Regions from separate parts of the Homo sapiens genome. Here region 1 is linked to region 2. A link means that fine-mapping ties the variant in region 2 to the expression of a gene that starts in the linked region. Tissue or cell type: whole blood. Region 2 holds a variant in brackets; the other region holds the start of a gene. All regions are shown on one strand. Distances are from middle to middle.

The links. PIP is the estimated chance that this variant, and not a neighbour inherited with it, causes the effect.
Region 1: ARB2A starts here. The variant in region 2 is fine-mapped to the expression of ARB2A in whole blood (TOPMed, PIP 0.96).

Annotation. Positions count from the first base shown.
Region 1 is chr5:94,108,205-94,116,392 of GRCh38, reverse strand. ARB2A (ARB2 cotranscriptional regulator A) reads left to right here and starts at 4,730. Exons shown (of 11, transcript NM_032042.6): 1 at 4,730-4,882. LOC105379087 (a long non-coding RNA gene) reads right to left here and starts at 4,691. Exons shown (of 7, transcript XR_001742441.2): 1 at 4,654-4,691; 2 at 3,989-4,068; 3 at 2,728-2,838; 4 at 1,592-1,646.
Region 2 is chr5:93,603,803-93,611,990 of GRCh38, reverse strand. No RefSeq gene overlaps it. Among named protein-coding and RNA genes, the nearest start is that of MIR2277, 13 kb to the left of the region's middle. RefSeq lists a silencer at 3,874-4,168. The variant G/A (reference allele first, on the strand shown) is at 4,210.

The DNA of each region.
Region 1 (8,188 bases), 500 kb before region 2:
TTCTCCTCAAAAAATGGGATTTTCTTTTCTACATTGTCAGGCTACAGAATTTCCAAACTTTTATGCTCTGTTTCCCTTTTAAACTGAATGCTTTTAACAGCATCCAAGTCACCTCTTGAATGCTTTGCTGCTTAGAAATTTCTTCTGCCAGATACCCTAAATCATGTCTCTCAAATTCAAAGTTCGACAAATCTCTAGGGCAGGGGCAAAACGCTACCAGTTTCTTTGCTAAAACATAACAAGAGTCACCTTTGCTCCAGTTCCCAACAAGTTCCTCATCTCCATCTGAGATCACCTCAGCCTGGGTTTCATTGTTTATATCATTATCAGCATTTTGGTCAAAGCCATTCAACAAGTCTCTAGGGAGTTCCAAACTTTCCCACATTTTCCTGTCTTCTTCAGAGCCCTCCAAACAGATCCAACATACTCAAGACTGGGCAATTTACAAAAGAAAGAGGTTTAATGGGCTTACAATTCCACATGGCTGGGGAGGCCTCACAATCATGGCAGAAGTTGAAAGGTACATCTCACATGGCAGCAGACAAGAGAAGAGAACTTGTGCAGGGAAACTTCCATTTTAAAACTATCTGATCTTGTGAGACTTATTCACTATTACAAGAACAGCAGGGAAAGACCTGCCCCCATGATTCAATTACCTCCCATGGGTCCTTCCCACAACACATGGGAATTCAACATGAGATTTGGGGGGGGGACACATCAAACAATATCAGCAAAGTAATCTCAAGGTAAATGCTGCAGCTGCAAGTGCCACTCGTGAGTATTCTTAGGGCAAACAGGAAAAGGGTTACTGGCAATTCTATATTGCATATTGTCATGGATGGATTTTGGGAGGGTAACATGTCTTGACTCCACTGGGAAAGTACAGCAAATAATGGAAGAGTATAGCAAAAGCGCTGTGTTTGGTACCCTTTTGGACTCTGCCTTACGTGTTTCTTCCCTTGGCTGATGTTAGTCTGTATTCTTTCCTTGTAATAAATGGTAACTGTAAAGATAACAGCTTTCAGTGAGTTCTGTGAGACCTTCTAGCAAAATTTCAAACCTGAGGGTGTTTCTGGGAACCCTCCAAACTTGCAGTTGGTGTCAGAAATCAGGGACACCTTAGAGACTGTGCCCTCAAACCTCACAGGTTGTCTAACTCTAGGTAAATATATCAACCTACAAATTGTCTCCATCACAAACTAGAGGCTATTTTATGTTTTTTTGTTCGAAATTCTCTTAAAGTATGTTTTGAACACTGATATGTTATCTTTTCTCATTTTAAAAAAATTCCAGGCATAATGAAAAGGGTGTTCTTGGGTCTAACTCAGTTTTGTGTCCCCAGCATCTAGATGGAAAGTACAAGTGATAGGGGGTTGATTTCAAGTAATAATCATTTTGTTGGAGGGGTCATTAGAAATTATTTGGTTATATGATCCTACTTTTTGGGCTTTAAATATAAACTGAATCTAGAAGGCAGAACTTGTTGTAATTACTATCCACACTTCACACATACTGTCTTAGTCCATTTTCTGCTGCTGTAAGAATACCACACACTGGGTAATTTATAAACAAAGAGATTCATTTGGCTTACAGTTCTGGAGGCTGGGGAAGTCCAAGATCCAGAGGCTGCATCTTGTGAAGGTCATCTTGTGGCAGAAAGCATCACAGGGGGAGAGAGGGTGAGACAGAGTAGTGAGAGTGCACAAGACAGAGAGAAAATGGGGACCAAATTTATCCTTTTATCAGGAGCTCACTCCCATGATAACTAACCCACTCCCACAATAATGGCATTCATCCTTTTATGAGGGCACAGTCCCTATCACCTAAATCACCTCTTTAAAGCTTCACTTCTTAATATTATTACAATGGCAATTATGTTTCCAATGCATGAATTTTTAGAGAACACATTCAAACCACAGCACATTCCTGCTTGGGCTTGAGCAAGGGCAGGAATGTTACTTGATTCTCCAAATTTAAGTCAGAATCCAGACCTCATTCTAATACAGTTGGTTAGTTTGGACAGAGCTTTGCCCTTAGCATCTAATTAAGAATATTTTCCTTAATGGATTTTCTTGAGCTGCCAAAATGTTGGCACTGAGTCCTAGTCATGATAAGTAGGTTTAAATTTTATTTTTAACTTAAATGAACAACATGTAGCCTTGTTAGTATTTTTGGAGGTGTCTGTCTGCTGTATGTCACTGAAATCATTTAATGTGAAGGGTGGGAGTAGATTGATAAAAAGATAGATGCCCAAGGAAGTGGTCTGGAATAGGAGGAGGATACGCAAAATATGGTATAGGGACATTTCTTTGATCATCCTAGTGATCAAAGATGGACCAGCTGTTAGCCAGGAGGGAACAAATCTCCTTTCCTTTTTCCTTATCTTAGTAGGATTTTGAAGTGCAAGAGAAGAGAGGTGGGGAGAGAAACTGAAGTTTCTGGCTTCCCTAGAGATGTATAAATTAAAATTATAAACTAACTTGTACAGTTTAGATGACTATGGTTAAAATGAGGGGACATTTTTGTACTATATTGTGTAGTCATCATTGTAATGGTTTCTGCTAAGCTACACATGGGCTGTTGTAATTCTAACAAAACATCTAAGCCCACATACAATTTTTGTTGCTTTCCCTCCTTTCTCCTCACAGATTTGCAGAAGATATTTTTGTGGTCAGCTGAGGCAGGAGTTTACCATTTAGGGTAGAGTAAGGAGAGAAAAGGACTCACTCTGTTTCAGCACATAACCTCTTCATTCTTGATTTTGACATCTTAGGCAGGATTGGACTTGAAAGGATATTTACTCTTTGGCTGTTGTCATACAGCTATTAGTTTCTTTTGCTGAAAAACAAATCACTCCAAAATTTACTGGCTTAAAGTAACAAGAATCATTTTCATTATCTCTAATTGTTTCTGTGGGTCAGGAATTCAGAACTGGGCACAGTGGGGATGGCTCGTCTCTGCTTTATGAAATTTTGGACCCCAGCTGACTCAATGACAGGAACAATCTGAAGGCTCATTCATTCCCATGTAAGTCCAGCTGGAATTGCAGGCTGAAGCACCCATATGTTTGTTCAATAGTTTACTACTGAACAAAGTACATTCCCCTAACCCTTGAGTGGGCCTCTATCCTGGAAATATTGAAAGGTCATGTCACTCATCTTTTGACCAATCTCCATATTTTATGTAAACATTGGTATATTCTCTTAATGGAATGTTACTTTTTTATTCAATTTTCACTAGTTTTCTCACTTACGTTCTATTTCTATTTCAGGATCCAACATTAAAGTTGGTCTCTTTAGGCTCCTCTTGGCTCAGACAGTTTCTCAGACTTTCCTTGTTTTTCATGACTTTAACTGTTTGGAGTAGTACTGGTCAGGTATTTTGTCTGATGTTTTTCTCATGGTTAAACTGGGATTATACATTTTTGGGAGCCTTATCTTTTTAATATAATCTGTCACTGTTGCAAAAGTCCACCAAAATAAAAATGTTTCCCTCCTCTGTTCAACAATCCTTCAGCTTCCCCAATTGTCTGCAGCAGAAAATCAAATTACTCAGCATGACATAGAAAGCTTTTCAGAATCTGGCTGTTGCCTTCCTCTTCAGTATAAAGTGTCACTCTACAAACCATTTGAGTTCTTTCCGGAAATGAAGCCCTAACAGTCTTGCAATGCCCGAGATTCATTCAGGTACTCAGTTCTGGCTAACTCCAGTGGATTCTCTCACCTTTTACTGCTCCTTATCTCCCGCCACTTACTTACACCACTTTCTTCTTGTCCTATACACTTTTCTAGATTTCCCCAATCTATTATTTACCACTGTGATCATTCAGTCATTCAATAAGTATTTATTGTCTACTTTGTGGACAGGCACTGTTGTATGGTTGAGGATACATTAAAAAGACAAGATTATGTCACTACCATCAGTGAGTTTACATTTTAGGGGGCAGGGTACATTTGCAAAGTACAAACAGTGTGGAAGTGAAGTATACCTTAGAGAGTCTGAGATCTCCTCTCTGAAGAACATAACTGTTGGTTTACTTGTCAGCCACCAGACTTTCCTTCTCTTTAGCTGCCTCAGAGGAGAGGGTATCTAACTCAGCTTTGTTACCCCAGCGTCTAGTTTAGCCTAATTCATTAAATTAACAGTTTTGGACTAAATAAATGCTCTGAGAGTACTATCTAAAAATTAAAAATCAGTTGCTTCCATCCCTTTCCCCAGATTTATCCTTGAAATACCTTTCAAACCTGTTTCTGGAAAAAACATTAATATCCGTAAGATTCCCATTTGAGTCAAGTATGATAACGAGAAAACTTTTGTCATTAGGATGCTAATATTAACTTCCTATTTTACATGTCCTAATTCAAAGGTAAATTTAATCTTCCGAATCTAGACCTCCCGGTTTTTCTGGAGTTGAATGGACAGGGTAAAGTCTGACACACTCTGAGTAGCGGAGTGGGGAACTGGCTGTAAGGACATCCTTAGAATAGTTAAAATTCCGCTGGGAAAACGAGGCTTTAGAGTGGCCTCGTCCTCTACGGCTACCCAGGCAGCCTTCACAAGGAAGGGCGACCAGAGTCCGCCAGTGCATAAGAGAACTACACTTAATTCACGCGGGCCTCTTTCTCCAGTCCACCTAATACCACAGGAACCTACCCAGGGCCCGCGCCCCGCCCGTTTCCGGGTTGTCGCCGCCGCTGCCGTCAAGTGCGTAATGACGTATCAATCTCCTGAAGACCCCGGAAGTGCAACTCGAACTTGGTCGGGGCGCGGATCCCGAGAGGGAAAGTCATAACAACCGCACGAGGGAGTTCGACTGGCGAACTGGAAGGCCACGCCTCCTCCCGCCTGCCCCCTCAGCCCTGTGGCTGGGGGCAGAGCTCAGGTAGGACTGCCGTTTGCGGGGATGTGAGCTCCGGGGGCAGGCCCGGGTCGAAATCAGGAGGGGGCTGGCCTGGGTCGGTCTCAGGCGGTGGTCGCTGGCCCTGGGGACCGAGGCTGTCTGGAACCACGCTGCATTCCCTGCGGACACCTCTGACTTGTGTCTGGGCCTCCGCTGATGGGCAGGTCCCATGTTCCATTTCCACTCTCTAGGCGGGAGCGACGTGTGTGTTCCCTGGATGACTTTCCTTATGTCGGGGCGTACGGGATTCTGGGAGTCCCTGGAGACAGAGTAATGGGCCCTCCTCCGCTTTCTTGCGAGTGGAGGTATTGTGGTTGTTGTATTAATTTTTTTTTCTACAAAAAGTATTATTAACTGCCAGCGCTTTACCAGAAGTCATTCACTGCAGAGGGATTAAAGTGCAGTTATAAAATGCTCTCAAAACTTGTAACATGCATGGGCGCGGGTGGGACGTTTCTCTGGGATGCAGTATGAATTAAGTGTTGAATACTTTTGACTTTGAAATAAAGTAAGTATGTTTTGGAAGCAGTCTTCTCTTTCCCTCATCCAGGTGTTTAACATATTCTTATAGTGCTCCAGGGTCTATATCTGTTGGGCCAAGAAACTCGTTGTGTTTGGATATACTGTATTTAATGACATGCAATGTTGTTGCATTTGTCCATTTCTCCCAAATCCTCAAAAAAGCTGTAGAGGGAAAAATTCTCTGGTTTTTATCTACAAGTGCATTGTATATTTATCAAAATATCAGTGCGATTTTTTAATGTAGTACATGACATCGTTTGCATTAACGCATGCCATATACTGCATAACAAATATCTCATTGATAAGGTGTATTCTTTATCCTACAATGCGAGGGACGGTTACACTGTATACATTTAGCGAATGTAGAAACTGAGTAAGAGAGTATTTTTGGATCTGCTTCGTTAAGGCCTCAGTGACAGTGCTGGTACCAGGCTTCTTTCAGAATTTTCAACTAGGCCTTACTTCCACTTAACCAGTGAATCCTACGCTGAAAAGTTAAGGATGCTCTGGATGCTTTCAGGCTATGGCTGCTCCATATGGTAGAATAAATAGTACCAAGGCCAAGAGGGAAATATTATCTATGAAACCATGAGCATCCACTTGTTTATCCATTTAGCAAGTATTTACTGGCAACCTTCAGTGTGCCGGATAGTGTTCAGGTGATGGGAAGACAGCAGTAAACAAAATAGAAAGTCCTTTTGCTCCTGGAACTTACATTCTAGTGGATGGAGACGTATAATTAACAAGTAAATATATAACAAGTAGTGATTAAGAGGTATAGAGAAAGGCAGGGCGCGGTGGCTCACGCCTGTAATCCTAGCATTTTGGGAGGCCGAGGCGGACGGATTGCCTGATCCCTGGAGTTTGAGACCAGCCTGGGCAACACGGTGAACCCCGTCTCTACTAAAATACAAAAAAATTAGCTGGGTGTGGTGGCGTGCGCCTGTATTCCCAGCTACTCTGGAGGCTGAGGCAGGAGAATTGCTTGAACCGGGAAGGCGGAGGTTGCAGTGAGCCGACATCATGCCACTGCACTCCAGCCTGGGTGACAGATCGAGACTCCGTCTCCAGAAAAAAAAAAAAAAAAAAAAAGAGGTATAGAGAAAAATAAATTAAGGGGAGAGAGAATGATAGAGGATGCTATTTTAGATAGGGTGGTAAGCTCACCCTCTCTGATAAGGGAACACTTGAGTGGAGATCTGAATGAAATGAGGGAGTGAGCTCCGCAAGTATGGAGGAATGAGTTGGCCTAGTACAAAGGCACTGAGACAGGAGCGTGTTTGATATATTTGGAATAGCAAGGATGTAGGCATGGAGGTAGCAGTACTTAACAATCTCAAGAATGAATATTTATTCCTTGATTTGGTGGCATGAGGGATTTTATTTATTTACAGTTTATTTTTTTCAGCTTTCCCAGACAAACCTCTGAGGAGAATCTGGTGTCTGTAGATATGTAGAGATGTTTCTGTGCTCTTCATTGAGCTCTAACAAAAGTAAGCACTATTTACTCAGTTGTATACAACTTGTACTGTCTCTGTTTTTAGAGTCAGATTGGGTTTGCACAGTAGTCATTGGTAACTAAGTATGGAGTATGTCCCTGTACTATGCCAACTTTATTTTTCACTCAGAAGTTTTTCATCATCCCCAACTGAAACTTCATACCTATTAAACACTCACACCTCGTTTTCTGTTACCTTCAGCCCCTGACAACTGCCAATTTACTTTCTGCCTCTATGAATTTGACTACTCTAGGTACCTCATATAAGTGGAATCATGCACTATTTGACCTTTTGTGACTGGCTTATTTCACTTAGTATAATGTCTCCAACGTTCGTCCATGTTGTAGCGTGTGTCAGAATGTTCTTTTTAAGGTGAAATACAATTATCCATTGTGTGCATATGCTGTTAATACATTTTGTTTATCCATTCATTCATCCATGGATGCTTGGGTTGTTTCCATCCTTTGGTTATTGTGAATAATGCTGCTATGAACATGAGAGTGCAAATATCTGTTCAACTCTCTGCTTTCATTTCTTTTCGATATCTCTCCAGAAGGGAAATTGCTAGATCACATGGAAATTTTATATGTATATATATCTATATGTATACTTTTTTTCGAGGAATTGACACACTCTTTTCCACAGCAGCCACCTCATTTTACATTCCCACCAGCAATGCAAAGGAGTCCAATTTCTCCACATCCTCACCAACATTTTGCCACATCCTCACCATTTCTCCACATCCTTGCCAAACACATTTTTTGTTTTTTTGATAATAGCGATCCTGATGGGTGTAAAGTAGTATCTCTCTGTGGTTTTAATTTGCACTTCCCTAATGATTGGTGATGTTAAGCATCTTTTCATGTCCTTTTTGACCACTGGTATATATTTTTGGAGTTCTATGAATTTATTTTAAGATATGATTTAATAAAAATTTTTGGAGATTTATTTGGTGGAGTTTTTAAGGGTTAAGAAGGCAGCCACCATGACTTTTATTGCATTTTAACTCTTTAATCCTGTAATTGTAAAAACTCTCAACTTGTCTGTTGACCAGGTATCTGTAGTAACTCCAAACTTAGAAATTAAAAAAAAAAATACACCATCTTCTATAATAATAAATGAACCTTTTGGTTCAAATTGCCATGAAAACAGTTCAGAAAGCCAAAGACTATCCTGGCCTGTTTTGATTTTTTTTTCTTTTTAATTAGAAGAAAAGGAGTATATTAAATGGCTGACTGTGCCTGTGTAGTAGATGTCGTTTGTTTTG
Region 2 (8,188 bases):
GTCTGGCTCAATACCCATCACCTCTTCTCCTGCTTGCAGACCTTAAGTCCAAGCTGTGCTTTTCGGCACCTCTCCCTGTTTGGCTCTCTTCTTTTTGCCGTCGCGTTAAGCAAAGTACAATAAAGGAAGATCACTTCCCTGTGGTATCTTTTTCATTGCGTGGTCTCCCTAGCAACACTTAAGTTGCCACTCCTAAGACAAGATTAGTTTTTTGTAAATTTCAAATTGCACCTTGCTGTATTGAAACTCTTCTCACTTGCTGGGTTTTGAGTGAAATCTCTTCCCTCCCACCAGGACCCCATTCTGGTCACCCACTCTTTTGAACCGTTGTTGGGGACGAAAATACTAGGTTTAGAGTAGGTGAAACGGTCAAAACCAAATTTCTATTAAATATCAATTGTACTAAAATAATTTCAAACCAACTTGATCCAAACTTTGCTAGAAAGAGTCAGGAATAAGTGAAAAGGGAGAGAACACTAATATCTTAAGTTAATGGGTTTCTTGCCTATAAAATGCCCTCAATAAATTTATTTGAAAACTGCTTCTGTATAGTAACATGAACTACAATACATTTCAGGATAAATTATTATCTATTTGCCATAGTATTGCAAGGAAAATTTTCAGTAAACTAAAGCAAAAGTTTAGCTTCAAAACACTTTATTTTTATGTCCCATAAGACATACAAATATTTTATTAACTCCTTCACGGGTTAACAATTTAGTTTGTTTTCTCGAAACAGCCATCATCAACACACTGCTTTCTCATAGCACTGCTTGCACAAACTTTTTGTCTTTTCTTAGTCTGCAAAGTCACTGCTGAATTCTCCTCAAAGATTATTTTTTTCCCGTAGTTTGGTCATTTTTTCCATCTCAAGAGTCATTTTGCCCAAATACTAAGGTAAATCCATGCTACTAGAGAAACTCGGCCATGCCGGAAACTAAACTAGCAACACGACCCTCCTACGAAAACGGGGGACAACTCACGTTAGCTAATGCAGTTTGGCATCTGAAGTGTGCAGCATAGCGAAGACCTGTTGAATAATAGTGACTTGAAGACTCGAATATTCTAGACTAGGATCCATCTCCCACTATCTAAACCCGCAACTGAAATATCTACATAATGTTTGCATATCTTTGGCCAGTACCCTTTGGGGGAGCTTCCAGGTGCTGAGCTTTCTTCCATCTTTGGATAAATTCGTTCTAGCCTTCCGGAGTTCAGGAGCAAGCAAAGGGAATCAGGTGCAGAGAAGGACGTGAGGTTTTCCTCTGTCGGGGCTAGGGGAGTTGTGGAGATTTGGGGTGGAAGGGACAGCGCTTATTGAACTTCTGGGTGCCTAAGGTTTACTCTCTCAGTCTGGGTTTTGGGAATCGCTTTCTTTCACAAGGGATTTCCTTTATGACTTGGAGGAAAGGGGTAGTTAAGATCTGCATTTCATTAATCAAGAATTTCTTACTTTTTTTAAAAAAGTATGCTCCTAATCCAGTTTCAGAATGACTTTTCTGGATTATTGTAAGTACGTCAGAAACTCCCAGACCTGAGTAGAAATTTCAGAACCACTTTTGCCAGAGAAAACTGTGAAGAAAAGAAGCATGGGAAACTCATTTTCTTTATAATAAATCAGAACATTGAGGATACTGATCAGGTCCCCCTGAGAGGAGCATCTTCAGTGATGTTTGTTCGCCATCTGTGTGTGTTCGGTGAAAACTCTAAACCATTTTACAGCATAGATTACTATTTTTTTCCTTATTATCCAGCGTTTGTTTCAATTAAAACCCTACTATTCCATAGGATTGCTGCTGTTGTATCCATTTTTTTCCCCTTCAAAGTCTTTTAAAATAAGTTTCCTTGTCTCTTGCCCATTTGTCAATGTCAAGTATACACTGCCTATTTAGTTAAAGAAAAGTGTGTATTTCATATGTTATAAAAGAACAGCCTTCTTTATTTGGTTTCTTGGAAATCAATAATCTCTTAAACGTTTACCAAGACCCCTTGGGGAAAGGAGAGATGTAAACAATAACCACCAAACTTCAACATGACAATATCGGTTAAAATCTGCAGGATGATCATTCGAATGTGGAGAGGTAAAGGGGGATGATTTCAAACTCCCGCGATTACGGAAGAAGGGACCCCAGGTGTCGGATGCCTGGCTCCATCCTCTGCAACTTGCAAGGGAGTTACCTTGGAGAGTGGGGAGTTAATTCTAAACTTCTTTACCAGGCATTTTAGTAGCCACGCTGGTCTTCAAATAATTTAATTGGGAGGTGGCTGGATGACCACAGAGAGGTTGCAAAAGATAGTTATCCCCATTAAAAGAAATACCATGATTTCAGTCTTTCCTGACATAATTAAAGGCTTTGGTAACACTCCTTTATTTTGCCTCATGCTGTGAAAAAAATCACTTACTTCTCCAGCAAATGAAACTTTAAAATAAATTCTGCAGTTTAATTTCTGCTTTTAAAAGTTAGTAGGTATACGAGGAAACAGAGAAAGCATTAGAACAACTGAGTTACACTTCAGCTATTTAGCAGTTTAACATTAGAAGGAAGAATACAGCCAGTTTTCAACTTAGCCAACTTTTAAAACTACATGTGTTCCTGGAAAATAATACCCGACTAGAGTCAATTTGCATGAGATTCTAAGCTAGGATCTCAAGAAGGTGATAAAATATATGAAATTTCTTGAGTAAATGGTTGGGGAGGATTTGTAAGCATCTGAGGATCTAGTGATCTATTAGAAGCACAATGCACTCAAATTTGAATTTTCATGATCAACTTTCAACCCTGAAAAAATGAGAGCCATTTGCTTAACTTAATCTGTAACATATGTTTGCACCAGTAGCAGGTTTTTTGGTGTGTGGCTGGGGCTGATCAAGTTGTAAATTTTCTGCTTTAGGTTTTCAGCGCCTGCTAGTTTCAGCCTAACACCTAGAGAGAGTCTTTGCGGGGTTCTTCACCAAAGCAGCCAAGGTTTGACAAAAGGTTTCCAAACCACCGAGCTCTGTGTGTTGTTAATTTCCCCCAAAGGTAGAACATTTCTATACAAATTAGTTTCCAAATCCTAAAAGCAAGTAACAAGTTAAACTCTCCCATGTCAAAGTGTTTAAAGTTATAAAGAGATATTTTTAATTTGCAACCGTTGCCTTCCTCACCAGCAATCCTTTCTTTAAAAAACAGACAATGGTATGAGAGCAGTGGGTGCTGTGAAAATGACATCTTCATTCGACAAAACAATATTCAGGTCTTTTTGGCTTATCTTAATTTTTTCCACCAGAAATTTAGAACTACTGATTTTCTCTCTTCGTGCTTCAACACAAAGGAATCCCTCCAAAAGTGTTTTGAATATCTGAGAAGAATCATTTAGTGATTGAAATAAATATACATTAGAATCCACAAATCATTCTTCTTGTGAAACAAGCTGTGTAGTGACTTTCATTACTAATATTAAAATATATCTCTTTGTAGACATAAATTTTTAGTACTTGGGCTATAAAGAAATCATAATACTTTTTCAATCAATTAATGCTATCTCATAATGACAAATGAAAGTAATAAGTTCCCCACATCAGCCTGATTCATCTTCGAGTGAGAATGGGGAGTAGTGGTGGGAGAGGGTGGTGGACTCTAGTGGGAAACCTCGACGATTGTAAATCACCATCTGGACCTGCTGAGTTGTCCTCTTGAAAACCTCAATCACATTCTTGGAGGAAAGTTACTAAGGTGCCTTTTTAAGTGCACCAGAACAGGTAATTGAACCACACATGTGCCCTAAATTTAGGTGCAGAGTTTCCCTGAATTTCATTATTATATGGATTAAGATGGGCAGCTCCCACCTGGACGATACCTTAATCAAAAAGAGAAAAAGTGTGACGAAAACAAGGGCAATAATAACATTACCAGCACTGTACTGATCAAATGCCCACAAATAGTTCAGAACAACGGTGCTAAAAAGCCGCTTTAATTCTGAAACAGAAAGTCCTGAGACACCGAGCGCCATCTAGCAAGCAAAGTTAGAATCAAAGTATGCCTGAGTCAAGCACAGAGCACAGAAGGACAGGGGATGGGGAGGTAAAGGGGGACTTCGAGATCACTTGCTGTGATTTAACCATCCACCCAGTCTCACCTGAGCCCAGAGCTACCTGCAAGTTTCTGCTCTTCGCCTCACCGACCAGCTCAAATAAACCTAACAACTGAGGTGAGACAGACCGTTTCT[G/A]CCTCCAGCCAAGGCTAAAGGACAGCTCCTCGCAGGATTGCTTATTGTCTTTAATTAGAACAGGCCGCTTCTCCATCCCCTCCTACCACCTCCCCAAAATCAGCCTAGTGTCTAACTAGTTTTGCACCTTCTTATCCAAATGGGGACAAAGAGCAGTGCCTGAAAGGCTCACCTTGGGCTGAAATGATTCCCAGGGCTTCAGCGCAGAGGAAAGCGCATCGCTGGGAAAACATAGCACGATATGAGAAGTCACTCTGAGTTTACAAGGCTGCCCAGACGCCTCCTGACAGGCGATCTGAGCTCTCTCCGAGTGGCATAAGACACATATTTACTTAACAAGCCACTGATGGTCATGGAAATGGAATGCTGCCTCCTAAATATAAATGCTGTAACTTTATTCTTCTCCAGGCAACTGGGTCTTTGATATTTTCTTTGGCTGAAGAAAAGTCAAAGGTAGCTAGAAAGCTAGAAAACTACCCTGTTAGTGTGTAGCTTGAAGGGGGTGGGGGTGGGGTTGAAACACTTTTTAAAAATAATTTTAAAGTTTGAATAATGTTACCTAATTATATGAATATTCTTTGGAACTGGGCTAACAATGTAACTACAAAATAAAGCTTCTGGGATTTCAATGTGAAGAAAGTAAAGAATAATCTGCTGGTTTCTGTAGAGGCAGGTACCGCATATTTTTCTTTTAAACCAGTCCATCTGAATTCAAAAGACTGAGAGAGTTCATCTCAATAATATGTGTGCTTTCTAAAGAGTCTTTCTGGAATTTCATTTTAAGGCTGGAAAATAATCCAGTGTATATACATGCTAGTCTTAAACTACTCTTAATTTCCTGCTATTGAATATTGCCTCTATAGTAGCTCATTGATTCACATTGTTCTTAGAATACAGAGCCAGAGCTAGGCTTTTCTATTGTTCTCTCCTCATCTCCATGTCCCACACACAATTTTTTTCCCAGTGAAGTGAAGTTTTGTAAAATAACAACAAAAACAAAAACAAAAAAATTAGAAAATGAAATATTAAAATATTCCTGTTGAATATCAAATGCTACTCCAATCTCAGGTTTGCTACTTAATGAACACAAGCACAATAGATATGAAATAACAGTCCTCTTGATTTTTCTACTGTGCTATTTGCTGTGCAAAACAACCACATTAAGAATAAAGGAAGCATGAGATAAGAGTATGCTTAACACACTCACAGGTCATAGAACTTACAGGAAAAAAAAATCTCAGAAAAATCACAACCCACCCAACAAACCTAAGCCAATAAAGAGAGACTTCATAGTTTAACCCACAATTTAGAACACATCTAATACATTTCTACAAAACCTCCTTTTCTCCTTATGCCTGAAAATATGTGTAAAGATCTGAGGATGGACAGTAGACACAATTCATGCTCTCTCTTATTTCCCTCTCCCTCTCTGAAGTTCAGAAGAAAAGTTCCCAGGGCAGTCTTGCCTCCGGATGCCAATAAAAATTTAACTTTGTGTGTGTGTGTGTGTGTGTGTGTGTGTGTGTGTGTCTTGTTAAATAGTACATTTCTCCCATCAAGGTCTTCTTAAACACGGAACCTTCTCCTAGACAGGGTACCCAGCTGTTTAATTTAACATTGATTTATTGCTTTTAAAAGTAAATTTACACACATGCCAGCAGCGCTCCGTTTTGTTTCCCCAGACCCTGAGATTTATTTTCTACTTAGCGCTTGTCTGACAAAACAATGTCCTTTAACTTTATTACACATCGATAAGGAAATCTGTCTTATTTTTGTTCAGATTTATTGCTGTGTTACTTGTGGGGACTTTTGTGATCCAGAAAGGCTCAGGTCCGAAAATAAATAGAAAATTAAACAGAGTTGATCACAAAATAATGATCAAAACCTTACAATATTGTCCAGCCTATATCAGCCTGCTGGGGGGTGAGGTGGGGTGGGACAGAGGATGATGCTCCCCTAGTGAGCACAGTTGCTCTGGAAGAAAACAAAATGTCTTTAATGGGCAGGTAGCGTTTGAAGGTGGAGTAGCCAAATCTGGGTTCTGTAATATCTCCAAGTTCTTGGTTGAAATGTATTTGGGATTACAGGGCAGGGAGGTGCATCTGCGGGACTCCCCACCCTATGGCGGCCTTACCTCCGTGCAGAACTCCCAATTATCACGCGTTCGTGATGACTGAGCCCAAGGGAATTAAGATGGACTTTGAAGCAGCTTTTACGGTACACTTCATCTACATTTGGGTTTTCTTTAGTTCTCATTAAAAGGGCCACTTTCTTCTTTTCATTGATATATGTCTTTGTGTCCTTCATTTCACACTCTTAAAAAAAGTTCTCTCATCAGATCAAGTGCAAAAAGGAGGGGACGACATAATAACCATCATAATCATGATAACAACAACAACAACAAACAAGTGGTACTGTGGGTTTAAATCTTTTTTAAAAGAAGGTTTTCTCCTCTATATGGCATGGCCCTCCAATTAAAAAAAAAAAAGCTGGGGTTGAGAATGAGGATAATAAAAGTGTTTCTAAGGTTAAATTACATGAAGGCAGGCTTAAAAAAAAATCTCTGAATGTGATGAGCTTTCCTCTCCCATCCTGATTTCTCACAGAGACATTCAGTAATCACTTTAGAGCTGTTCACATGAGGAAATGAGGACACTATCTTTTCTAGTAAGAAGTGAAGATGTGACAGGTTTTGTTATTGGAATGAGGGAGAACTTCGTAAGATATTCCCTTTTTTCGCCCCTACAAACCCAGCATCTTTAAAACCCCCTGTCTGAAAGCGTGACTCGTCTGTTGCCTTTCCACTCTGGTCAGTGGGTCCTCGAAAACACCATAACATGTTTCAATAATTCTGACAAACCCATGAAGATTTTTTAAAGTTAATGAATCATTCTTTCTCCTGAAAACACATAAAAACACGTTTGTGCACGCAATTCCAATCTAATGAGAGAAAGAAAGAAAAGGGAAGGAAGGAAGGAAAGAAGGAAGGAAGGAAGGAACGGAGGGAGGGAGGGAGGGAGGGAAGGAAGGAAAGGAAGGGAGGGTAAGGACAGAAAGGAAAGAAAGAAAAATAGGAAAAAAGGAAAGGAAAAAATATCCCTCTTTAAAAGGGGGGAGGTGGAGTAACTGCGAAACATTGAAAATTCTCCTATTCATATTAGGAGCTTCTTCTTCTTCTTCTTCTTTTTTTTTTCTGTTTGCCCTTTGAAAAGGGGTCCTGTCACTCAGAAAGGGGCTGTTTCTTCAACCTCCTCCCCATCCACCCACCAGCCGGCCCCCCTCAGCCTCGCAGCCGGCCCCGGCCCACCCCGCGGCCCTCCCAGCGCACACACAGTTTCTTCCAAGTGCTTTTTCAAGTAAGAGCCGGAGAGATGAGAGGTGCGGCTTCTCCAGCGCGGAGCCAGACAAGTACTTCTCATCCCGGCGGAGCGCGGCCCGGCGCGGCCAGCCCGAGGCCCGGACGTTCTATGTCAAGAAGCCCCACGGCCCCCCGGGCTGGCCGCCCCTCCCCGCGGCTGGACAGCGACGTCGCGCTCGGGCCTGTCACGTGGCCGCGCCCCCCCGTGCCCCCGCGGAGCCCTTTGTTAAGCCCCCGGGTCTCCACGCGCGGCCGCCGTGGCTGGGGCGGTGCCGCATGGTGGATGCGCCCGGAAGACGATCGGGGTACCCTGGCTTTGCCTCGGCTCACCACGCAGCCCCCAAACACCTTGGGCGGAGGCCCCAAGCACTTGGCAAATCAAGATTCTCAGTCCTTTGAGGAAAACGGCCCTGGGCCACCTCCAGTGTTTCAAACCAAAGGCACAAAGTGGGGCAAGGGGGCCAGTGGAGGGCGCGCCTCTGCACAGGGGTGTAACCACTGGGCTGACTTCCCTCCTCCTTTCCATTCCGCCTCACCAGTTCCTCGCCTTTTTTTTTTCTCTTCTCTTATCCTCTGCCACGCTCAGAGGCTCAGTGGGTGGGAGTGTGTGTGTAAATGTGT